3 linked regions of the Homo sapiens genome follow. The protein of the gene in region 1 purifies or fractionates together with the protein of each later gene. This does not show direct contact. Each region holds a gene or a part of one and is shown in the gene's direction. Other genes may lie near its edges. The genes, in order: HABP4, GNL2 and FMR1.

Evidence for each region.
Region 2: the proteins of HABP4 (region 1) and GNL2 purify together in Homo sapiens (affinity purification with mass spectrometry; 2 studies listed by BioGRID and IntAct, with this or other methods). This does not show direct contact.
Region 3: the proteins of HABP4 (region 1) and FMR1 purify together in Homo sapiens (affinity purification with mass spectrometry; 2 studies listed by BioGRID and IntAct, with this or other methods). This does not show direct contact.

What each region holds. Positions count from the first base shown.
Region 1 is NC_000009.12:96,444,742-96,453,614, forward strand, and holds the start of HABP4 (intracellular hyaluronan-binding protein 4), read left to right. Parts: upstream 1-5,427; 5' UTR 5,428-5,538; coding exon 5,539-5,887; intron 5,888-6,447; exon of another isoform or gene 6,448-6,725; coding exon of another isoform or gene 6,726-6,744; intron 6,745-8,873. UniProt on the Homo sapiens protein: Ribosome-binding protein that promotes ribosome hibernation, a process during which ribosomes are stabilized in an inactive state and preserved from proteasomal degradation.
Region 2 is NC_000001.11:37,571,503-37,579,736, reverse strand, and holds part of GNL2 (nucleolar GTP-binding protein 2), read left to right. Parts: intron 1-3,180; coding exon 3,181-3,309; intron 3,310-4,037; coding exon 4,038-4,142; intron 4,143-4,913; coding exon 4,914-5,072; intron 5,073-5,280; coding exon 5,281-5,394; intron 5,395-8,234. UniProt on the Homo sapiens protein: GTPase that associates with pre-60S ribosomal subunits in the nucleolus and is required for their nuclear export and maturation.
Region 3 is NC_000023.11:147,928,919-147,937,152, forward strand, and holds part of FMR1 (fragile X messenger ribonucleoprotein 1), read left to right. Parts: intron 1-1,029; coding exon 1,030-1,123; intron 1,124-1,209; coding exon 1,210-1,326; intron 1,327-3,506; coding exon 3,507-3,677; intron 3,678-3,766; coding exon 3,767-3,845; intron 3,846-7,585; coding exon 7,586-7,695; intron 7,696-8,234.

The sequences.
Region 1 (8,873 bases):
ATTACTTGTCATAAGTACATGTATATAAACAAGAAATTCATTCACCAAACAACAAATATTTCCTGAATAAAAGGCACTGAAGATGAAACCAGAGAGAAGGGAAGGAAGGGATTCAGAAATGAATTAGACACTATTTCTAACCTTAGGGAGGAGAAATAAGGACAAAGAACTATAATGCAGGCCAATAATCCAGTGTGACAAGAGGCACAGCAATACCACATTCATGCTCATCATCACATGCAAGGAATTCTGTTTGCTACCTGCCCAGCATCTATTCCTACCTGCTGGTTTAGAAACCTTATTTTCCTCAGGGAACCACCCCATCAACTCTCAGTTCCAGTGGTTCAGGGGGTGATGACTTCAATCAGACTCCAGCTTGGGCTGGTAATCAAGCCTGGATGATGAGAGAATTAAATGATCTTCAGTACAGCAACTGGGTTCAATGGTGTATGTGTGACCCAAGACATAGGCCCGTGATTCAATTCTGGGACTTCTGTGCATGCACTAAAGTCAAGTCGGCCAGGCATGGTGGCTCACGCCTGTAATCTCAGCACTTTGGGAGGCTGAGGCAGGTGGATCACCTGAGGTCAGGAGTTCGAGACCAGCCTGACCAACATGGTGAAACCCTGTCTCTACTAAAAATACAAAAATTAGCTGGATGTGGTGGTGCACACCTGTAATCCCAGCTACTGGGGAGGCTGAGGCAGGAGAATCACTTGAACCTGGGAGGTGGAGGTTAAAGTGAGCCAAGATTGCGCCACTGAACTCCAGCTGTGGCAATAGAGTGAGACTCCATCTCAATAAATGAATAAATAAAGTCAAGTTGGCCAGGCATGGTGGATCATGGCTGTAATCCCAACTCTTTGGGAAGCTGAGGCAAGCAAATTGCCTGAGCTCAGGAGTTCCAGGCTGGTCTGGAATTTCTGGAGCGAATCACTGTTCCTGGTAGATTTTTTTTTTTTTTATTGAGCCAACAAAGTCCTTGGTTTTACTTATTCCAGATGGGTTTTCTGTTGCTCACAACTTGAAGGATCTAGAATAAATGAGGAAATAAAAAGTTCTAAATCCCCAATTATTTATTTGGCCTTGATTAAAGTTACAACTAGAGATCAAACTTTTAATAGTAGGAATGGGAGAGAATAAAAATTTCTATTGGCACAATTGCTTTGAGTATACAAAGCACTAAGCTATCCAGTAACCTTTTGTCATAAGAAGGCAAGTTGGAAAGACCCTCAATGACACCAAGAATACAAATATTATTAGCAGGTTGGGGAAATTATTTCATGATTTAAACATTGTGTATCTGATCATCATGAATGGATTTCCGCTTGCTAGAAGTTCTTCTGGTGCATCCTGATTGTTAACTAATGGTTTATGGTTCTACAACTCCTGACTTTGAGCCTATGTACTTGCTACTTGCTTTATTCATTTGTTGTGGGAAACTGAATTTGAACTCACTTATCACCCTTAGAATAGTGAAACCAGGAACTATTATGTAACTTCATTGATCCTGTCATAATTGACTCAACTGGCATAAAAGATCAGATCCTCTTAGAGTTAGGAAAAATACTTTTGTTTTTGCATATATTATGCAAGTAGAAACAATTATAAAATAGTGAGATTTATTTTTACCTTTTTCAATTGACTTCTTTGGTCTTGTCTTCCATTCAACTATATGAAGAATGCAAGACAGGTTATAATCATCCTAACTTTAGGGACAAGAAAAAGGTAAGGAGAGAGAGAGCAGGAATTCAGCGGCAAAACAGAGCAGATTGAATGCAGTGCTTTGGTAATTAACAAGAACTCACATCCTCGCCAGCCTGACCTGGCCTCTCCTCCTTGGCTCTCACCCAGGTGTTGCTCCCTGCATGTAATTGAAAGTAATGAAGCTACATGTGTCTAAACTCTCAATTAATGGTTCTGTGAATTCCAAGTCAATCTGGAAGATGTTAGTGTATTTTATTATTCCTAATGGGACTCCTCTATTAAGTAATTCAAGGTAATTTACATCTTGTATACAGTTAAGTTTCACTGCATTTCCATTGGTGGTAATAAATAACCACTGGAATATATATAATAATCATGGAAGGGCTGGTAGTATTATTCAGCATCCACACTTCACAGCATTTTTGATGTGCTTTGTTTTTCCATGCTATAAGATGTGTGTTATTGTTTGGTATTATGATTACTAAAAGCTGTTTTCATATATCAGATTATGAAAAAGATCAGTCTATTAAACTGACCACATTAAACACAATGTGTGAATAACTTATGCTAATGTGGTAGAGTTGTATTTTAGGAATGCATTTAAGGATGCAATCTCCTAGAAGAAAAAACAATCAGTAAAAAATATGAGGGTGCTTAACCTTACTCTCAGTAAATTGTGCAGTAGTCAATAGCCCCGTAAGAAACTCATGGCCATGGCCGGGCACGGTGGCTCACACCTGTAATCCCAGCACTCTGGGAGGCTGAGGTGGACAGATCACTTGAGTTTGAGAGCAGCCTGACCAACGTGGTGAAACCCTGTCTCTGCCAAACACACACACACACACACACACACACACACACACACACACACACACAAAGAAAAAAAAGAAAAAAAAGAAACTTGTGGCCATCTAATACCAGGTAAGGATTACTCATCTCTATTTCAGTTCTAAAGATGTTCTGAATCCTGAAGCAACGAGAGTTGGTTCTCTTACAACCATTTGGGGCATTTGTGACTTGGAAATGAGGCGGCAGTGCTCACAGGGCATGCTTTAAGAACTTACAGTGGCTGGTTATGCTGTAAGGAAGATAAGAAGAAAACAGGGGAGCAGGCTAACTCCAGATGCCCAGTGGGAAGACGACAGGCCCTTCTCTCACATGATCATGATTCCTTGGTGTTGTGGTTTGGTGATGAGCAGTTTAAAGATACCAAAGATAACTTTAGCTTGAAGCAGTGCTTCTCAAAGTGTGGTCTCTGTTGCATGTAGTGATTCTGGTTCATTGAGATAAATTTACTATTTTTACTCTGGTTCATTAAGATAAATTTACTATTTTTACAAAAAATTTACTATTTTTACTAAATTTTACACAAAATTTACTATTTTTACAATTTTAAAGTGTACAACTCAGTGACATTTACTAAATTTACAATTTTGTGCAACCATCTCCACTATCTCGTTCCAGAACATTTCATCACCCCACAGGAAACTCCCATGCCCATTAAGCAGTTACTTTCCAACACTCCCAACCCCCACACCTGGTGACCACCAATCTGCTTTCTGTCTCTATAGATTCTGGACATTTCATATAAATGGAATCATACAACGTGTGGCCCTTTTTGTCCGTCTTTCACTTAGCACAATGTTTTCAAGTTTCATCCCTGTTGTAACAAGTATCAATACTTCCTTTTTGACCAAATAATATTTTTTGTACCACATTTTATTTATCCATTCATCGGGTGACATGTATATTATTTGTTTCTGTCTTTTGGCTATTGTGAATAGTGCTGCTATGAATACTCATGTACAAGTTTTGGTTTGAACACTTGCTTTTAATTCTTTTGGGTAGAAAGCGTAGGCATTAATCTTTGCTCACTCAAAAGGAGATGACCAAATATCTTAAATTCTTCAATCATTCAACAAATATTTACTGAAAACCTACTCTATAGCTGCTTAGAACGCCAAGCACTGGGAATACATACTGCAGTGAATAAGACAGGCATCATCCCTGTCCTCCTTGGGAATAACACAAAATTCAATAAGTGAGTAACACACAGACTTTACAGCATTTAGGATTAGGAATTCCTTTGCTATTAAGGAAAGTAAAAGCTGGTCACAGAGCACCTGGCAAGATGCTCTAACTGGATGCTTTCGGATGAAACAAGCAAACACAACTAAGCGCAATCACATCTGTCACCTTACATCATAAGCCTCAAGTAGGGAGGTTCCCAAGTGGGTCCAGTCGGCAGCTCAACCTCATCAAGGATCTAGCCTTTCTCTATCCTGCTCTGCCATCCTCATGGCCACGCTAAGGAACAGCCACCCGAGGCATCATGTCTTCTCATGGAACAAAGACCAGGGAACAGAAGGGGGGGAGATCCCTTCTCAATCCCTTGTTAGGTGCAAGAAAAACTTTCCCAGAATACTTCTCAGATCTGTTCTGCCCGATTTGCCCCACAGCCTATTCCTAAGCCAATTACTGGCAAGGAATTGGAATCAGGTGCAATGAATAATGTATGATTAATCAAGTTTGAGGCTGGAAGGGGCCCTCTTCCCCTGGGGAATATGATGCCTGAACAAAATACAGGCTCTGGAAAAATGTAAGAGGGAAAGAACGGCTGTAGGATAGGCAGCCAAGCGTGTCTCCACCGCTGCCTATGCAAAGATTTCCTGGAGGAAGTCCAGTCCGGCGTTCTCTAAGCTCCAGGCCTCAACTGAATATCTCAAAAGAAAACAAATATCCAAACCTCAACGTGTCCCAGACTGAATTAATGATTCCCGTTAAAGTAGTGTCTTCCAGTGGTAACTAATACTATCATTCAGATGCTGGAGCCAGGAAAATAAGAGTCACCGTATCTTCTTCTCCCTCATCACCACCTCTAGCGCATCACCAAGTCTTTGAATCCATCTACTCTCTTCGCCTCCACCGCCACCATCCTAATCCCAGTCACTATCAACTCTTCCCTGGAGCTTTGCAACAATCATGTTTGGCTTCCCAGCATCCATTTGTATTTCCCTCCAAACTATTAGTTCACAGTGCAGGTAGGGTGGCCTTTTCAAACCCAAATCTGCTCATGCTCAAAACTTGCTTCCCACTGCTCTTAGAATAGAGACCACTTTGAGCTTGAATAGGCTGTGCACATCCCACCTCAAGACTGCTGCACTTGCTGTTCCTCCTCCAACCCCTTGTCACCCCTCTCCCTCGGCTTAACTGTCATTTCCCAATTAGGTCAGATCCCTTTGCTGCAGCCCGTAGAGAGCTCTGCGCCTGTCCTTCAGGGCACTTTTTCTCCATCTACAGACTCAGATCTGTGACAACACGGAGCTAGTATTTCCTACAACATAATGCCTGGCACACGGTAAGTGCGCAATATGTAGCTGTTGCACGGCTAAATGTATACATAAGCTTCAAAGCAGAGTGGCCCATAGCAAATACGGTCGCAGTCCCGGGAGAAAGCACACACAGCCGAGACCCCACCGCTTCGTCGGCGCCGCCTGGACCAGCCAGTAGCTCCGCCCCTGGGCCCCGCCCCTCCCTGCTGAGCGAACGGGGCGGGGCCCAGAGGTCGCGTGACGTGACAGCAGCCGGTCGGTGATTGGGTCTCCAGGCGCGCCGTGTCGGAAAGGGGGCGCACCCGCGCGCGCTGACTGGCTGTCTGGCGCAGCGGGGCGGACGGCGGCGGCGCCGCGGGGGCGGGCGCCGGTAGGGGCCGGACAGGGTAGGGCCCGGAGGGCGGTGGCGGCGGAGCGGGCGGCATGGGTCCTGGCCGCCGGCTTCGCTGAGACGCGCTCGCGTGGGCTGCCCTCCCGGGCCCGCAGTGGTCGCGGCGGCATGAAGGGCGCTCTGGGGAGTCCCGTGGCTGCCGCTGGCGCCGCGATGCAGGAGAGTTTCGGCTGCGTGGTGGCCAACCGCTTCCATCAGCTGCTGGACGACGAGTCGGACCCGTTCGACATCCTGCGCGAGGCCGAGCGCCGGCGCCAGCAGCAGCTGCAGCGCAAGAGGCGCGACGAGGCGGCGGCGGCGGCCGGGGCCGGTCCCCGCGGCGGCAGGAGCCCAGCCGGGGCCTCGGGCCACAGAGCCGGCGCGGGCGGCCGGAGGGAGTCGCAGAAGGAGCGCAAGAGCCTCCCGGCGCCCGTCGCTCAGCGGCCCGATAGCCCCGGGGGCGGCCTGCAGGCGCCGGGTACGCGGGGACAGCGGGGTTAGCGGACCACGGCTCGGCCCGCTGTGAGACTGGGGTCCCGGGGGCCGGTTTCAGGAGGAGGGGCCCGGGAACAGTAGGGAGAGTTGAGGGTCCTGGTGGCCGCCGAAGGTAGGAGGAGAGGGGCAGGGGTCACACCCCTTCCAGCTCTCGCCAGCCTCGTGCGGGGCTCCGGGGGAAACGCTGGCTTGGGGTGGGATAGGGCCCTCGAACCCTGGCACTGAGGCTCTACGGCAAGTTGGACGAAGTTGAGGGAGGTTGTCTGGGTGGCGTGTGGGGGCGAACGGCTGAGGTCGCTACCCCGGGGCTCCCACATCCAGACCTGGCGGGGACCTTCATCTTCCAGCCCAGCCTCTGCAAGATTGAGGTCGGAGCCACCCGAGAGCGCGGTGGGGAGGAGGAGGGCGCCTGGTCCCGGGGCTGGGGGCCTCTGTGATGCCGGAGGCCTGGGCGACCGCGGGGCGGCCTGTGACGTCGGGGCCCGGGCGGGGGTCCCCGGCGCGGTCCGGCCTGGCGCCTTCGCCCCTTCTCCGTCCGGTAGCTTCCAGGAGGCAGCCGGCATCGTATTTCAGTACTTCGTGTGGTGTTGATGGGATGTGCAACTTATAAATAGCTCAAGGCTGCTTTAAGAAAAGCGTTTTTAACCTTTCCAGCAAGAATATTCGGAGTTCCCCACTCCCTATTTAGCAAGAAAAACCGGTGCGCAGCGTGGTGTCCTGCTGCCTGTGGACGGGGAGGGTGCTTCAGAGTTCATTCTCTCACCGAACTGCGTCAGTGGCAGAGCCAGCAACACTCCACCTGTGTTTCCTGTTTTCTTGAAATGAGGCAGCGGTCCCAAGGTTTGCAGAGTGTTAGGATTAAGATGTGTAGGTTGACCATTCCTGCCGACGTTTGCCAGTGTGTTCAACTTGGCTTTATTGGTTTGTTCCTTGCTTGATAAAAATTGTGCATCGCAGCCCTGAGGAAACGTCTCAGGTTTAAGTATTAGGGCTTTGATGTGCAGCTGGGTAATGTTTACCTTTATTTGTGAAAAGCTAAATCCAGAGTCATCACTTGAGAATCAAGTCACTACAATAAAGATGTTGAAAATGATTTTTAAAAAAATGTTATTTACTATCTCACGACACTTTGGTAGGCCAGTAAATTTCTGAGCCTATCTAAACAGTGAGACTGGAGATACATTGTGCATTTTATATCCTGTTTTTTATCTTTTTCTCTTAAACTTATTTACATCAATATAATAAAGGAATTGAGGAAGGCTAAGCTTTTCTTCACCCTTTATTTTTTAACAAATGAAAATGCCGGGTGTGGTGGCTCACGCCTGTAATCCCAGCAGTTTGGGAGTCCGAGGCGGGCGGATCACGAGGTTAGGAGATCGAGACCATCCTGGCTAACACGGTGAAATCCCGTCTCTATTACAAATACAAAAAATTAGTCGGGCGTGGTGGCGGGCACCTGTAGGTCCAGCTACTCGGGAGGCTGAGGCAGGAGAATGGCGTGAACCCAGGAGGCGGAGCTTGCAGTGAGCCGAGATCGAGCCACTGTACTCCAGTCTGGGAGAAAGAGCGAGACTCCGTCACAAAAAAAAAAAAAAAAAAATTCTGTGCTTCAGAAAAACGTGAGACGAGTTAGTGCTGTTAATACATTGATTTTTAGCCTTTTTAAAATTGTCATGCATTTTTGTGTTAAGAATTTTAAGCAATTCCAAAATGTATGAGGTTAAGTGAAAATCCTCTTATTTTTCCTACTAACACTTTGCATTTATATACATAAATGCACAGAGCTATTTCTTTTCTTTCTAAACTTAAATGATATAAACTGGGTTGCAACCTGTTTCCTGCACTTGATGTTGTCATGTAGTACACTCGTAACTTTTTTTTTCTGTCAGTTGTTAGGTCTAAGTGATCTGGCTTTTGAAATCAACTAAAGGTATTTAGTTGATTTTGTAGTTAGAACGGAAATTTTATCATTCAAGTTCTTTTTCAAGTATGTGTTATTTCAGGAGCAAACAGCTCATTAATTTCCATTTATGTAGTTACTGTACTAAATTTATCTATAATGGGTGTCAAGGAGCTATTCTCTCAAGGTTTTGTAACCCTAGTTGATAAGAAGCACTGTACTTTTCTAACATTCAAAATTTTTTATCTAGTTAGAATGTTGTAAGTGAATGCTTAGTGTAGACAAAAATAAAACATGTTTGACATATCATAGAAATGTTAATCCTGAAAGAATGTGGAAGTCACAAGCTTTTCCTATGGAAAAGGGTTTTTTTTTTTTTTTTTTTTTTTTTTTGAGACAGAGTCTTTTTTTTTGAGACAGGCTGGAGTGCAGTGGCATGATCTCGGTTCACTGCAACCTCTACCTCCTGGGTTCAAGCGATTCTCCTGCCTCAGCCTCCTTAGTAGCTGGCATTACAGGCATCTGCCACCATGCCCGGCTAATTTTTTTTTTTTTTTTTTTTTTGAGACAGAGTGCAGTGGCGGGATCTTGACTCACTGCAACCTCTGCCTCCCCGGTTCAAGCGATTCTCCTGCCTCAGCCTCCTGGGTAGCTGGGACTACAGGCATGCGCCACCATGCCCAGCTAATTTTTGTATATTTTTTAGTAGAGGCATGGGTTCACTATGTTCATGTTGGCCAGGATGGTCTCGATCTCTTGACCTCATGATCTGCTTGCCTTGGCCTCCCAAAGTGCTGGGATTACAGGTGTGAGCTACTGTGCCTGGCCTAATTTTTTATATTTTTAATAGAGATGGGGTTTCACCATGTTGTCCAGGCTGGTCTTGAACTCCTGACCTCAGGTGATCCGCCCGCCTCAGCCTCCCAAAGTGCTGGGATTACAGGCGTGAGCCATGATGCCTGGCCAAAAATGTAGGTTTTTAATGTCTGACTATCTGTCTAGCAATATGTATATAAACCCTTGGGTGAGCCTTGCTCAATAAGTTCATTCTTAAAGTCATGAGAGGCCG
Region 2 (8,234 bases), on another chromosome or scaffold:
TTTAGTAGAGACGGGTTTTCACCATGTTAGCCAGGATGGTCTTGATCTCTTGACCTCGTGATCCGCCCGCCTCAGCCTCCCAAAGTGTTGGGATTACAGGCATGAGCCACTGCACCTGGCCTATATATTTTTTCTTTTGGTACATATATGACATTTTCCTCTATTTTCTGGGTACTTTTTTTTTTTTGTGAGACAGAGTTTTGCTCTTGTTGCCCAGGCTAGAGTGCAATGGCGCGATCTCGGCTCACTGCAACCTCCTCCTCCCAGGTTCAAGCAATTCTCCTGCCTCAGCCTCCCGAGTAGCTGGGATTACAGGCATGTGCCACCACACTTGGCTAATTTTGTATCTTTAGTAGAGACGGGGCTTCTCCGTGTTGGTCAGGCTGGTCTCAAACTTCCGACCTCAGGTGATCCGCCCCCCTCGGCCTCCCAGAGTGCTGGGATTACAGACGTGAGCCACTGCTCCCGGCCACTTTCCTTGTTTTGATCATCCAGCTGCCCAGTCACAAAATTTATTTTGCCAATTGCTTTTAATTTTTAATTTCTGAGAGCTCTTGTTGAATTCTGATTTGCTCTGCCTCCTTTTACATCTTATTTCACAGTCACAGTATCATTAATGACGTTTTGAAATTTTCCTGTCTGCATTGATTCTGTTACCTCCAAATTTTTGTGGGTTTTTTTGTGTTTTCTGCTACAGTCACGCTTAAAAATTTTTTCTTTTACTTTAAAAATTTTTTTGAGACAGGGTCTTGTTCTGTCTTAACCCAGGCTGAAGTGCAGTGGTGCGATCATGGCTCACTGCAGCCTCGACCCGCAAGTAGAGTCAACTTAAATGTTTATTCTTGGTTCTCTATTTATATTTAAGAGTAAGGCATTAGGCCAGGTAGAGTGGCTCATGCCTATAATCCCACCACTTTGGGAGGATGAGGCAGGCAGATCGCTTGAGCTCAGGAGTTCTAGACGAGCCTGGGCAATATGGCAAAACTCCATCTCTACAAAAGATAGAAAAAAATTAGCAAGGCATAGTGGTGCACACTTATGGTTCCAGCTACCCAGGAGGCTGAGGCAGGAGGATTGCTTGAGCCCAGGAGACAGAGGCCGCAGAGAGCTGTGATTGTGTCGCTGTACTTCAGCCTGGTTGACAAGGGAAGACCCTGTTTCAAAAAAAAAAAGAGTAAGGCATTAAAAAGCTGATAGGTTCTTTTTTTTCTCCATGGAGTGGCCTTGTTGACTGATAGACTTCATTGTAAGGTGATTAAATAGGGACTCTAATTTAATTTAATTTTTTTTTTTTTTTTGAGACAGAGTCTTGCTCTATTGCCCAGGTTGGAGTGGAGTGGCCTGATTTAGGCTCACTGCAATCTCCGCCTCCTGGGTTCAAGCAATTCTCCTGCTTCAGCCTCCCAAGTAGCTGGGAGTACAGGCAAGCACCACCAGACCTGGTTAATTTTTGTATTTTGAGTAGAGTTGGGGTTTCACCATGTTGGCCAAGCTGGTCTCAAACTCCTGACCTCAAGTGATCTGCCCACCTCAGCCTCCCAGAGTTCTGGGATTACAGGCATGAGCCACTGTGCCTGACTGGGACCCAAATTTTTTGTTGGGAGGACATCCTGTAGATACCAGTGTCTGTAGGTCTTTTTTCTTGGGCTTGTGAGTTTCCCCAGAAGAGAATCTTTCAATCTCTAGCTCTAGGGGTATAGAATCCTGGCTGCTAGAGTTCTGGGAACTCAGTGGGAATAGTAGACTGGGCATCTCACTATTGAATACTTAGATTTTCAATTAATCATTCTGGGAATACTGTTATTATCTCTAAATCCAGGATCCCTTTCAAGTCTGAAGATTACAGATACTTTCAAACATGTGACATTTCAAAAAATCCAAAAGCCACTTTCATAGGCCCTGGATTTCTTTGAGAGTAGAGAAGTTGTGTGCCCACCCTGAATGAGGGAGGGGATGGAGAAGTGTGGCTGCTTTGGCAGACTATCTGCTGGTCCTTGTTTTCAGCCCTATCTTAAGAGGGATCTACCACCAATTCCCAGTGATTCCCAATGAATCTCTGTGATTCATTGTCATTATTATTGCTGGATCTTTAGTTTTTCTATCTTTACAACCACTTAGCTTTTATATTTTGTAATGGGCCAAGTTTGATACTACTTTTAAGCATCTAGTATTTTGTTTAACATCACTTTAGTTTTTGTTGTCTCATCTCCATCTCATTCTCTGGTTCAGTATGTTTGGTTCTATTGGTTTAAAAGTGTTAATGTCCACTGCTGTCATTCTAGTGGAGTTGGTGAGGGAACGGGGTTAGCATGTATGTTCAGTCCACCATCTTTAATCGGAAGCCTCCATTCGTTTGTAGGCCCTCTTCTTGATAGCAAGCTCTGCCTTTTTGAGACTTTCACCCTGTAGTCGTAACTTTCAAGGTTGCTTTTTTTCTTTTGTTATTTATTTTTGGCAGTGGAAATGCAGATGTATTATGCAAAGAAAAGGGGGGGTGAGTTGTGGGATTGTCCAGTTGATGAACCTGTTCATATTCTTTTTCCCGAAGATGTTTTATCAATAGATGGCATTGTTCTAAATCAGTGACTAACAAGCTGTTTTTCTTCTTTTGTTTCTTTTTTTTTTTTTTGAGACTGGAGTCTCTGTCACCCAGGCTATAGTGCAGTGCATGATCTTGGTTCCCTGCAACTTCGGCCTCCCAGGTTCAAGCGATTCTCCTGCCTCAGCCTCCCAAGTAGCTGGGATTACAGGCTTGCGCCACCATGCCTGGCTAATTTTTGTATTTTTAGTAGAGACAGGGTTTCATCATGTTGGCCAGGCTGGTCTCGAACCCCTGACCTCAGGTGATCCGCTCTCCTTGGCCTCCCAAAGTGCTGGGATTACAGGCGTGAGCCACTGTGCCGAGCCTTCTTTTATTTCTTGACCTACATACTTTTAACCTTAACACATACAAGGATAATTTCACTTGCATGACTGAGGAAATGACTCACCTCTGATTTATTAATAAGCATATGTATCCAGCTTACTCAGATTATGTAGGTGGTGTGTATCTAGGCTTCAGATCAAGTTGTATCAACAGTTTTGCACTGTATTCTTGATATTAACAAAGTAATACAACCTACTTGTCCAAAGGGATATATATGACTGCATGTATGTGCTGTGTATTCTCTCTTTGAACAGTTGCACACTGACAAGAAACAGATCAGTGTTGGGTTCATTGGCTATCCAAATGTTGGCAAGAGCTCTGTGATAAATACATTGCGTTCTAAGAAAGTTTGCAACGTGGCTCCCATTGCAGGTGAAACAAAGGTACGTTGGGCGCAGGGTGACCTTACTTTTGCATATTTTCTTTTCATAGAGAGTGATTGTTTAGGACTTGTTGATTTCTCTCTGCTTCTCTTGAATGCAGACCACCACTAGGAGTTTAGCTCACCATATAATAGTTTGGAACGTATCAGAGTTGTTTCTGCCCACTTTGATAAGACTGAGAGTATTTTATATGCCCCCGTGTGGCTTTGGCCTGTGTTAGTTAATGTGATTCATATTTAGATCTGTTTTAAATTATCACTCCAGCCTTTTATTTTGATAAACAAAACTAACCCAAGAATATTTGATGCCTGGGTTAAGAAGCCTCAAACTTAAGGTAGGTTCTGAAAGTTGGGGGTCATATCCTAGAACACATAGTGGGGAACAGCATGGTTTTGCTTAAAGGCAATGAGGTCAAGCAGTACTAAGCTCTCAAGAGTACTTCTAAAACTCAGGAAAGGTTCACCGGGTATAATTGCACAATACGAGATGGAAATCCTGTCTCTGTGTTGTTTTTAGACTCTTAGCTGATGGAAACTATAGTTTACACTTAGTGGAAGTATCTTGTGCACGGCACAGATGAGAGAGTTAGTAGCTTAATTACTTAGCGCGTTGCTTTTCTTTGACTCACCCCTTCCTCCTTTCCAGCTTCATACATGAGCATCAGGGGTTTGTGAAATTAGACTCTTAGTGTTTGATACAGGACATCTCTGACTTTTTTCTGACTTCAGGTCTGGCAGTATATTACTTTGATGCGTCGGATATTCCTGATTGACTGTCCAGGTGTGGTTTACCCCTCTGAGGACTCCGAGACAGACATTGTGCTAAAAGGAGTTGTGAGTATTTGGCCCTGATAGGCTGTTTGTGTTTGCGGGGGAGTGTTCTATAGGGAACCCTGGATACCTTTCCTTTTTACTTATTAAGAAGGCAGTTTGGGGTCAGCCTGTCTGACCAAACTTTAGGAACATGATGCTGAACAGCAGCCTCTCAGCATAAGCTGTTTGAGGAATTAGTGGAACCATGGGCATATCTGGTCAATATCATCCCACAAAAGAGTTTGTAGTTTACACACAGGATCCAAAGGGAAGCAGGGCCTGTTTATGCTTAGCGATAATTCGTCTTCGTGGGTTTATGGGTTGAGTCATTTTGGAACCCAGTCATTTCCTCACTTGTTTCTGAATACGACTGAAAAACTGTAAATGGTTCCACTTAACCTTGACCATGCTTCTGGCTATACATCCTGTACACATTCCTCCTCTCCTTTCTTAAACTATTCCATTATTTTTGTGTCCTGGGATGGGCAGGCTTTTAACCATTTCTGCAAGTGAGTAACATGAAGCATTCCAAGTTTAAACTGTGGCAGCCACACAGTTAGTTTGTGGTGAGTGGGGATTAAAGCTGAGTTCTGGGCTCCGTGGCTATGGTCAGCTTTCAGCAGTGCTCCTTGCAGCTGACCATGTCTAGCCCCGTCAGAGACAGGCTCCTGCCAATCTCCACGAGCTTTGTGATGTTGAAGTCTATTTTCAAATAGTGCTGCAAAGGACACTGGGAACTTCACTGCTTCCACAACAAAGTTTGTAAGTGAGAGATTTCCTATTAACATTTAGGTTCAAGTAGAAAAAATTAAGAGTCCTGAAGACCACATTGGTGCTGTACTTGAACGAGCAAAGCCAGAATATATCAGCAAAACATACAAGATTGATTCTTGGGAGAATGCTGAGGACTTTCTTGAGAAGCTCGCTTTCCGGACTGGGAAGTTACTAAAGGTGACCCGGCGTTTGTGAGAATTTAGACTGATACTTGTCACAAGCATGTATGTATATGATATGGGCCTTTTTTTGGTATGCATGTATGAGCAGTGTGAAACTTGTCACTTAAGTGATGATGAACCCCTGGGACAACTGAAATACCCCCAAAGTGGTAGGTGGTTTTGGTCCTTTGAATTTAATTGGGAATCTCTTTGTGACCTTTCAGGGTGGAGAGCCCGACTTGCAGACTGTGGGTAAGATGGTCCTCAATGACTGGCAGAGGGGCCGGATTCCTTTCTTTGTCAAGCCACCCAATGCAGAGCCACTTGTGGCCCCCCAGGTAAGAGCAGGGTGGGCCCACCTCTGGGGAGCATGGGTCCTGACCTAGATTTGGTGTAGCTTGTGATTGTCTCTCTTCATAGAGCGTGTATTCATTCAGCTGCGGTGTCTCTCATTTTATTATTTTTTTAAATATATAAAAATATTTTTGGGGCCGGGCATGGGTGGCTCACGCCTGTAATCCCAGCACTTTGGGAGGCCGAGGTAGGTGGATCACAAGGTCAGGAGTTCAAGACCAGCCTGACCAATATGGTGAAACCCTGTCTCTACTAAAAATACAAAAATTAACCTAGCATGATGGCACGCTCCTGTAGTCCCAGCTACTCGGGAGGCTGAGGCAAGAGAATTGCTTGAACCCAGGAGACAAGTTGCAGTGAGCCGAGATCGTGCCACTGCACTCTAGCCTGGGCAATAGAGGGAGACTCCATCTCAAAAAAATAAAAAAAAATTTTTTTGAGGGTGAAGCACTGTTGGGAGCCACTGCTGGCCCATGGCGATCACTCCACCCTCTCTCATTCTAGAGTGCCAGTGCCATGGCCTTGCTAGGGGGTGCATTTGGAGACTAATAAGTAGACATATGAGAGAAGACCAAACTTAGATACTAGCCTTTAGGGCCTTGGAAAAAGAGGGCTCATTAAATGTAAGTGATCTTCTGGTACCTGTATCTTTTCTTATGCTTACGAAACAGAATCATTGCTAAGATAACATTTGTTTAACAAACATTTATTAGCATCGACTATGTGCCAGGCACAGGGAATATAGGAACGAAAAACAGCCCTGGCCCTCAAAAAACCTGTGATCCAGTGGGAAAGGAGAGTGGTACTACTGATAGTCGGAGAAAGAAGACTGAAGGCTGGGGCCAGAAGCTCTCCTACTATCCCCATTTCCCTCACCCTGGCAGTGGGCCGCCACAAGGCTCAACGTTAACGTTTTGCCTTTCTGGTTCTAGGACCTTTTTCAGAACCCAGCCAAGTCTCTTGAAATGGTGGCTTCAAATTGTGCATCTATGCTTGCTAGTGTCGTTGGGTCCATACAGTGCTGGTTTCCTCTCACCTGACCCCATTCCAAGTTGCAGTTGCAGCTAGGTATTTTCAGTTGAATGTATTCTGCAGCATTTGAAAGTTAGCCTGAAACTGATGTTAATTGACATTCTCCCTTCTCCCTGCCCAAACCATCAAACAACCAAACAAAAATTTCTCTCCCTCTTCATGTGTATTGCATCTTTCATTCATTAATTCACTGATACATTCACCCAGCAATCCCATATTGAGTGTCTCCTGTTGGCCACAGACTCTTCTGGGTACTGGTGGTGCTGTGGTGAGAAACTGACAAGCTGCTGCTCTCCTGCACATATATTCCAGCAGGGGAGTGTGTGGTTTCTTCTGACACCAAATACATAATTTTTTTCCATATCAGTTCTGCAGTTCTCAGATACCAGCTGAGTGTCCCAACAATTTAATTCAGTTGTGACACTAACTCCCGGAGTTAGCACAGACCCCACAAGTTAAGGACTAGGTCCCCTGCTTCAGATGGCAGCTTCAGGCTATCCACACTTACGCCCGGCTAACTACAAATTCAGGGGTTCTGGGGTTTGATAATTTGCCAGAAGGACTCCCAGAACCCAGGAAAGTGCTGTGTTTACAATTAACGGTTTATGATAAAGGATGAAACTCAGTCACAGCCAGTGGAAGAGGTGCACAGGGTAAGGTATGGGGGAGAGGCACAGAGCTTCCATGCCCTCTCCACACATTGATGTGTTCAGCAACCCAGAGCTTTCCAAACCCCATCATGTAGGGGTTTTTATGGAGGTTTCATTACATAGACATGACTGATGAAATCTGTGGCAGTTGGTGATAGACTCAATTTCTGGTCTCCCTTCTCTCCTCTGAGTGGCTGAAAGCACCAACCATGTGGTCAAGTGCTTTGTCTTTCTGGTGACCAGCGCATCCCCCATCCTGAAGCTATCTAGGGGTCTACCATGAGTCACCACATTAGCATAAACTCAGGTGTGGTGGAAAGGGGCTTGTAATCAATAAAAAAGATACCCATCGCTTGGGAAATTCCAAGGGTCTTAGGAGCTCTGTGCCAGGAAGTGTGACATTTATATCACAGGGAGACAGTAGGCAGATAAACATATAATGTCAGGAAGTCTTGCGTGCTGTGAGGAAAACTAAACCAGGCTAAGGGGTTTGGGGGAGATGAGGAGTACTTTGGGGTGGTCGGGGAAGGCCTCTGAGGCAGTGGCACTTCAGCAGAGCCCTTAATATGAGACAGGAGCCATGCTAGTATCTAGGGAGAATGTTCCAGGCAAGGGGAACAGCACATCCAGAGCAGCTGGGGCAGGAGTATGCTCTGTGTGTCCTGATGCTGAAAGGAGGTCACTGTGGCTGGAATGTCGTGGGCCAGGAGAGGGTGTCATGGTGGGAAGCCATTGGAGGTTTTGAGTTAGCAGCTGGATTCTAGGGTCATTCTGGATGTCCGTATCACTGCTGTCTTGGGACCCTGTGTGGAAACACTGGCATTGTCTTCAGCCCTTCCTCCGTATGTAGTCAGTAAGTGTAGATAAGTAGTTCAGATAATTCTTAAGAACTATTGTAACCATAATAGATTTGTTGCCCAATGCACACAGCAAGTCAATATGCTGAGACACCACCAGGTTGCAGCAGAGAAAGAAGTTTAACCGTAGGGTCACCAAAGGAGGAGATGGGAGGAATCCTGAAATCATTTCCACGAGGAGTTTGGGGTTAGGGTTTTAAGGGTTTTGGAGTGGGCTGGAGTGAGGGTCATTGGTTGGGTGAAGAGTGCAGGGTGAAGTCACGGACAGGGAGATGAAGAAGCTGT
Region 3 (8,234 bases), on another chromosome or scaffold:
GGTGGACTTTGGCAAAAATGGTTTGGTTTGCAAGAGCAATGGAGAAAAAACTTATTTAACTTTTCCTACTTATAGAATCAAGGCAGCCTTGCGCTTGTTTAAACTTACTTGGCTATACACGTGTCTGATGTACATAATGTACATTTGTTTTCTAAACTAACTTTGTTCATTCTAAGATTTAAAAACTGATCAAACAAATGTGATAATTCTGTCATAAGTCACAAACTATAAACGATTTCTCCGTTTTTTTCTCTTTTACCTAAAATGTTTTCAGATAAATGTGTAATAAGTAGAGCCAAAGAAGCTTTAAAAAGTCATCTCATCTTACAATCCTTGATCTGGAATAATGCTTAAAGACTATAGAAGAGACGCATTTTTATTTTTTACAGATTTTATTAAGTGAATACAGTACGTTTGATTTGGACATGTTGTTGAACATTAAATTGCAGTTCAGAATACATAGAAATCCTCCCTTTTCTAGAGATTGTGTATGTGTGTAAATTTTTGTGCCTTCTGGTTCATGTACGTTTCCTTCTCTCCCTCAAATCGTTTAGCAGTTTCTTACCCCATTCTCCGTGATGTGCTTATTTCATATTGCATGCCTGTATCAAAACATCTCATATGCCCCATAAATATATATACCTACTATGTACCCACAAAACTAAAAATTAAAAAAAAAGGAAAAAAAAAGGCCTGCAACAAGAGAAGAAGAAAGAAATCAGATACCCTGTAGGTAGCTATCTCCAAAAGTTTTCAATAGTTGACTTAAGAAAACTACTGACTTGTATGTAACTGAAATCAGGAAACCTGTAGTGTAGAGTGGTTCCCCTGAATATGTCTCTTTTGGTAATCTAAGCTGTATTTCAGAAATGTACAGAAAAGGAGCTAAGCTTCTAAATGGATATAGCATATTTTGCATAAATCAAATTTAATATGAATCCATGATTCTTGTATGTGTAAATCTGCCTGCATTTATTTATGTCAGTAGTTGGTAATTATTCATCTTAATTTTTTTTTTTAAATTTCTAGGTGTGCCAAAGAGGCGGCACATAAGGATTTTAAAAAGGCAGTTGGTGCCTTTTCTGTAACTTATGATCCAGAAAATTATCAGCTTGTCATTTTGGTGAGCATTTTTGAGTTGTTTATTTTTAGTTTAATTCATCTGGGGCAATTGCCTTGATAATAATGTTGTTAATTTAAATCATTTAGTCCATCAATGAAGTCACCTCAAAGCGAGCACATATGCTGATTGACATGCACTTTCGGAGTCTGCGCACTAAGTTGTCTCTGATAATGAGAAATGAAGAAGCTAGTAAGCAGCTGGAGGTATGTCACTTTCCCTAGCACTGCTTGTAAGGGTACCTAGGAACGATTAACTGTATCATTCCACAACTTGAATATGGGGAGCTTGTCATTTATTTACTGCTTCTTAACAATTCCTTAGGTTCTATAGTTGGAAAATTGTACAAAGCATAATCATACTAAAGTTTCCATGCCTGAGGTTTCAAAATTAAACAGCAGCTTATGTATATTAAGGGACTTCTGGTACTTTCACTTTTACTAGAAGTTTATCAAAGTTGCTAATAAAATGCGGCAATGCTTCTTCCATATAACATGTTGTCATTAAAAATACTAGAGAATATTTAAATATCTAATCATATTCCTCTCATTATGTATGTTTATCTTTGTTTAAAAGGGTATAGAACTTCTTCATTCTAATTGGTTGTCATTCTTTAAAACTCCTGTCTTCAGATTCCCGCCAGAGGCTATTTCCCTAACTTACTATTTTGTCTCTTAAGGTGCATTTTATCTACTTTTATTAATCCTCCAATAATTTTCATCACCATATATTTGTTTTCATTGATAACTATCAAGTACGTCCATCCATTACTATAGAAACTAAGTGGATCTTAGATGAATGTGCCAGCTCTACTATATTCCTGTCAAATTCCAGAGTTCGTCATCATTATTCATTAGAAGGAAAACACCACACATTTGAAATAGTAAAGAAAAAAAGGAGTTCCAAACTGCATTTTAGGAGAAAAGGTAGTCAAGACTGTGTTCTTATAAAAACCCTGTGAAATTTGCCACCTGTCAACTTGATGTATGATGCTGAACTCTTAGCAGAAGGGGAAAAGTTTAATCTCCTTTTGCCACTTTGTTTTTTCTTAAGGCCATGGAGGTCTGTTTAATTGGTCTTTGCTCTCATTCTTTCTTGATGTCCCTGTGTTCATGATTTTGTGGTTCCTTCAGTGATTCTCTCATAACTTTTAGCCCAGAGCTGCCTCCTTACTTTGATTGTGAGTATTATGAAAATATACTCATATGCCTCTTAAACATCGAATTATTCTTAAATGATCTATCATACTTTTGGCTAACCATTTATCAGTGAATTATCAATGAAAAAGAACGAACCAGATTAATGAACCAGGACTCAAAAAACATGACTTCTTGAAAAGTCCTAGAATTATTTTATAGATTTTATTACTCTAGTCTAAAAAAAATGGGTATTGCACTTTTAAATTATTTATGCTAGTTGTATTCATTCATTCAAATTATCAGGTCTGTTGAACAATGAGAAACTAGTATGCATGCCTATCTTTCTTCACTACTAATATTAAAGAGATTTACATGTTCCTATAAGAAATTCCCATTTTTCAACATGAGCCACTAATACGTTTGGTTTTCATTAATGGCATGCTAGAACTGAACACTAAATTTTGATAATGGTATTTAAAGACAGTGGTTATCCACAAGTTTGGGATGTCAGTGTAACTTAGTTTCGTCATCACTGGATATTTACAAGTGCTCATCATAATTGTGGATCCAGATCACAAGGTCTTACGGACTCTGGTCTCATGTTAGCTTTCAGATGCTTACTAAGTTTTTAATTTTTGACATTTTTTGATTATTCAGTTTAACTACTGTACCAACAATTTTTGATTCCTTAGGTTTTGAGGGAGGTGTCATTTTAATGTCATTTCAACAGAGGAATGTTTAGACCACAGTACCTAATGATGTTATAAAAAATGGCACTGTTTCCAGAAAATATATACTGATACCTTTTAATAAAAATGAAGCGAATAAAATTTTCTATAAAGATGATATTTAAACATTTTTTTACCTAAATAAGTAACATTGAGTTTGTCAGACCGAGTGAGCTGGTTTTTACTGGGGAACATTTGACCTGCTTCTTAGTTATTATATTGCTGATGTCATTGGTTAACTAAGGCAGCCTTGTGATAAGTTTTCAGCAGTTACCTTGGAAAATGTCAACAAGTTCTTTCCTATTAACAAAAACATATAAAATGTCATAGACCTTTAGTAACCTAAAAAGTACTTAGGCTGTGAGAGGTATTTTCTAAAACCTGTTAGTTTTAACCTAAAACTATTAATAATTTATGGACCCCTCATATACAGGGTCAAGATAATTTACATGGCTGGCCTAAATACAGTTGTCGTAATAGTTGATAAAGTGTATTCATCAGACGTCCATTTCTCTTCAGAGTTCAAGGCAGCTTGCCTCGAGATTTCATGAACAGTTTATCGTAAGAGAAGATCTGATGGGTCTAGCTATTGGTACTCATGGTGCTAATATTCAGCAAGCTAGAAAAGTACCTGGGGTCACTGCTATTGATCTAGATGAAGATACCTGCACATTTCATATTTATGGAGAGGTAAATATTTTACTGCATAGTTTTTTTTTCCCCAAACAAGTATTTCAGCTGGCTAATCTTTTGTCTTAAAATGTTTCCCCTTTTATTAGGATCAGGATGCAGTGAAAAAAGCTAGAAGCTTTCTCGAATTTGCTGAAGATGTAATACAAGTTCCAAGGAACTTAGTAGGTAAGTCAGAAGTATCTGTTGACATATAGTACAACAACTAAGTTTAGGTAAACAGTTTATTTATAGTGATAGAATTCCATTTTTTCTTACTGGAGGGTATCATTTAATTGAAACATAGTCTTTGAAATATGATCTGTTCTTTTTTTTTATTATTTAAGTTTTAGGGTACATGTGCACAATGTGCAGGTTAGTTACATATGTATACACGTGACATGCTGGTGCGCTGCACCCACTAACTTGTCATCTAGCATTAGGTATATCTCCCAACGCTATCCCTCCCCCCTCCCCCCACCCCACAACAGTCCCCAGAGTGTGATGTTCCCCTTCCTGTGTCCATGTGTTCTCATTGTTCAATCGATCTGTTCTTACAGCATACAAAAAAATATTTGTTAAGTATGATGCTCAAAGGTTACATTTTCAGAAGGTATTCAAAAGAGATTGCTTTTCTAGTTCAAACCTACTAATACCTGAAAGGATAAATCTTGCCCAGCCCTCCTGACTGTATACCTTTTATATCTTAAAATTAAATAATTTTTCAAAATGAATGATATTTGGGGACTTTATGATTTGAAATAGATTTGTATTTGATCTTTCTTATGGGACTATAAAATGATAGCATTCATTTTAATTATCTCAGGGTTGAAGATCTGAACATAGGTTACTTAAATCTAAAAAGTTCCAAAGCTAGAAGAAACTTCAGATGTCTCTGGGACTTTCTGCAAAGTCAATAGTAATTCTTCATTTTGACTTGAGTAGTGTTTTATCACCATCACCATCGTGAGTATCAGCAAATATTTAGGAGCTCTTCACCAATACTCCTAAATGCTGCAGATATCTTTAGTAGAACATATCAAAACCAGGTGCAGTTTTATCAAGAAAGCTACATATGTTTTTAATTTGTAAATAAAATTGGGACATACTGCCTATATGTTTTTTATCTTTTAAACTTGAGATCATGGCCATTTTATATAAAGTAATACATGTTCTTTGGAAACTTTAAAGAAGAAAGCAAGGACTTCTCATACATTCTGTTTACGTAGTTTCAATGCTAATTTAGCCTGCTTTTTTGTCAGCATAGACTCATAAACATCTTCCTTGTCATTAACAAACACTAGAAATGATAAATGTATCTCCCAAAGAAAATTAGCTTGAAGATAAAGTGCAAATAGTAGGAAAATAATGCAGAAGTGTTAGCTCAACTGTGTACTACAGACAACTGGAGAAATGTGTTTGTAATGTTACTAAGGTAACTTGCATACCAATTGTATGTGTACAGAATGTATGCATAGCGCAAGATAAAGTGCTAATCTCAAGACAGTTGGGTGATGAATAATATTTATTTTCTTCTTTACAGCTTGTCAAGCAATTGCATACCTTTTGTAGTTAGAAAGGTTATTGTAAATTTAGGAATTCTTATGGAAAAAGAGCTGGTAGTTGTTTTGTTTTTTTTTTTTAATAGCAAATGAGTAGAGAATTATGTGTCAGATTCATTAAAGTTGGTTTTGAAGATGGCATGATGGTAGTGGGGAAAGTGCTTGGGCATTGGAGTTGGATCTGGATTTCAGTCCTACTTTATTCTTTGGTGGCAATGTGAGCGTGGGTCACTGTCTTAGCCCCCCTGAGAATTATTTTTCTTACCTATCAAATGTGATAATAGGATCCACCTCATAGAGTTGATGTGATAATTAAATTGGAAGATATAGTAGGGGACAATTCTGGACACAGTAGGGGACTCTGTTCTTCACCTTATTCAAAACAACTCCATTTCAGTAGAACAGAATCACAGTAAATTGCTCTTTGGGATTTGGAAATAAGTGTAATGTAGAATTGGATTATTTGCTATTAAATATTAAAAGTAGATTCTACCTGTGGTTACCTGGAAAGAAGAGGATCTCAGAAATAACCAGAAAGACTGCTAAAAGTAAATCAGCCTTGTTTTTGTTTTGTTGTTTCTAGTTAGTAAAATGAGATAATTCTGTTTTAGAGATGGTCCACTGCAACACTGGGAACGTTGGAACTTTTCAGAAAGCATTTTTGTGTAAGATTCTGCAAGGCAGATCTTTAGAGAGGTGTCATAATCAGTTTTGCATGTGTTTTGTTTGAGTCAACCAACGTTATTTGTGATCTCTATTTTTCACAAACTCTCTTTGGTATGTGCACTAATTTATCTTTTCATTAAAATTGGATTCTTCACTCACTAAGAATGAATTGGTATGACTATTCAGTCAGCTATAGTTAACACACAGTACTTAGGATAATTAAGATATTATCTTAATAAAAACATCCCCAAATCTCATTTTTCATTTTGTTAACTCACTTAGATCTTTATTAAAGTCAACATTAATTCATGAAAATGTAAGTGTTGCAGTTTAAAATCAAACTGTGTGAAGACTCCAAGTAGCTTCTCTCACCTCACCTTTCCCCTTTTCGTTATAGAAGAACAGAAATAATTGACAGAAGGACCTAGACCAAGAATCCTGATTTAATGGTGTCAGATCTGTTCTATGACCAGTCAAAGAGTTTCTAGGGGTGAATGAGGCAGCCACACACAGCAAGAATGTCAAAGCTATGCTCTGATTACAAGAGCCACAAGAATTTTTTGTGAGAAGGCTTTTCACTGAGTTCTTATCTAGCATTGGCTCAAAGCAAATTTTTGCTTCCATCTTTTCCCCCAACTTTGCCTTGAGCTTTGCCTTTAAAGGCGAAAAGGAAAAAATGGAAGATGAGATGGTGAGGGCAAGCACATGGTGGATGTGGCCAATGTAAGGGTACTTAGGTACCTTGGGTGAGCCCTCAGAATCAGATGTAGTTCACATGTACATTTCCAGAATTAGTAATTCTTAAGTTTGTAATGTCTTGCTTTACCACTCGTGTCATGATGCAAATGAAAGCAGTCATTTTCCAGTAATGTATATGATTGTAAAATAAATAAGGAAATGATCAAGTACCTATTTTTTACTGGTACTTGAAATCCCAAGTTTTAATAGATGTTACTGAAAAATACTTAAATTGGTTTAAAGCTTTTTCATTGTGGTTTTGAGTTATCTTAAAGTGGGTTTTCTTAATCTTTTACTCTGTGACTAATCCCTTCACTTTTTAATACATTGCTAAAGTTTGTAAGTAATGCACAGGAGTGATACTCTGTTAACACATTGACCTTGAAGAATTTGTATTCCTTTTGGATGTATGTATAGCTGCTTAAGCCACTTTCAGACTTAGATTATCTTTTATAAATGTGCCTTCCATACAGAATTCTGAAAATATTTACCATGGACAAAGAAGCAGATTTAAATCAGGTACAGACAAGAATTGAAAGTGTTGAATAAGTGAATATATTTCCCATTCTCTCTACTTTTTTCTTAATTCTTATAGAACTTTGCAGAAAGAATGATACATACCACAGTACCAGCAAGTTTAAAGCGTACCCTTTTGTGCAAAAATAAGAGGTTATCTTTGAACTGCCTTAAAAATCCAAAATTACCCTATCAGTTTGCAAGTATTAATCAACTCTGGTACCTGACCAAAGGAGTTTAAACAATGATGTCCTAATTAAACAGAAAACCAGATTAACCATCTTGTTGAAAAGAGTCTCTACTTTGGTTTTGAAATCTTACAATTCAATACATACACATACACATAAAAATATCTATCTATATGAATGTAATAGTTTACAGTAGGGCTGTGCTTACTGCTTTGAGGTATGTGTTTTTAAAACCAAACTTGATTTATTTATTTCTTAGGCAAAGTAATAGGAAAAAATGGAAAGCTGATTCAGGAGATTGTGGACAAGTCAGGAGTTGTGAGGGTGAGGATTGAGGCTGAAAATGAGAAAAATGTTCCACAAGAAGAGGTATGTTACAGTGCGAATATTTTGTGGCACATATAATAAAAGTAAAAGTTTTTTATGTGATATGTTGAGGACCTCTAATATGTGCATAAAGTGAATGCAAATATTCTGATTATCAAGCATGCCTGCTGTAATTAATGTTATAATTGTAGATAATGGCCCTTCTCTGTCCTCTAATGCAGTGAGTTTGGATTAGTCACTTTATTGAATTCTTTTTTCCTGATCTTTAAAATGGGTAGTTATAAATTTTTAAATATGAGACATACATCACTGGGTCGAGTGTTAATGGCAATTTAATAAAATAATATATATGTAAATGCTTCGTAAAGCACTTTGTAAATGTTAATGTTGCTGACAAAAGCAAAATTGGAACACAGGTTTTCTGGCTTTCATCTTTTCACTTTTTTAGTGTGGGGATTGTGTAGTATGTGTGTTTATTCTGTGTGCTTTAAATTTATTTCTGTGCTTAATATCTCTTCCCCATCCTCCTTACCTTTAAATTCTGTAACCCTTTTATCTTCATAAATATATGCTTTTTGTAG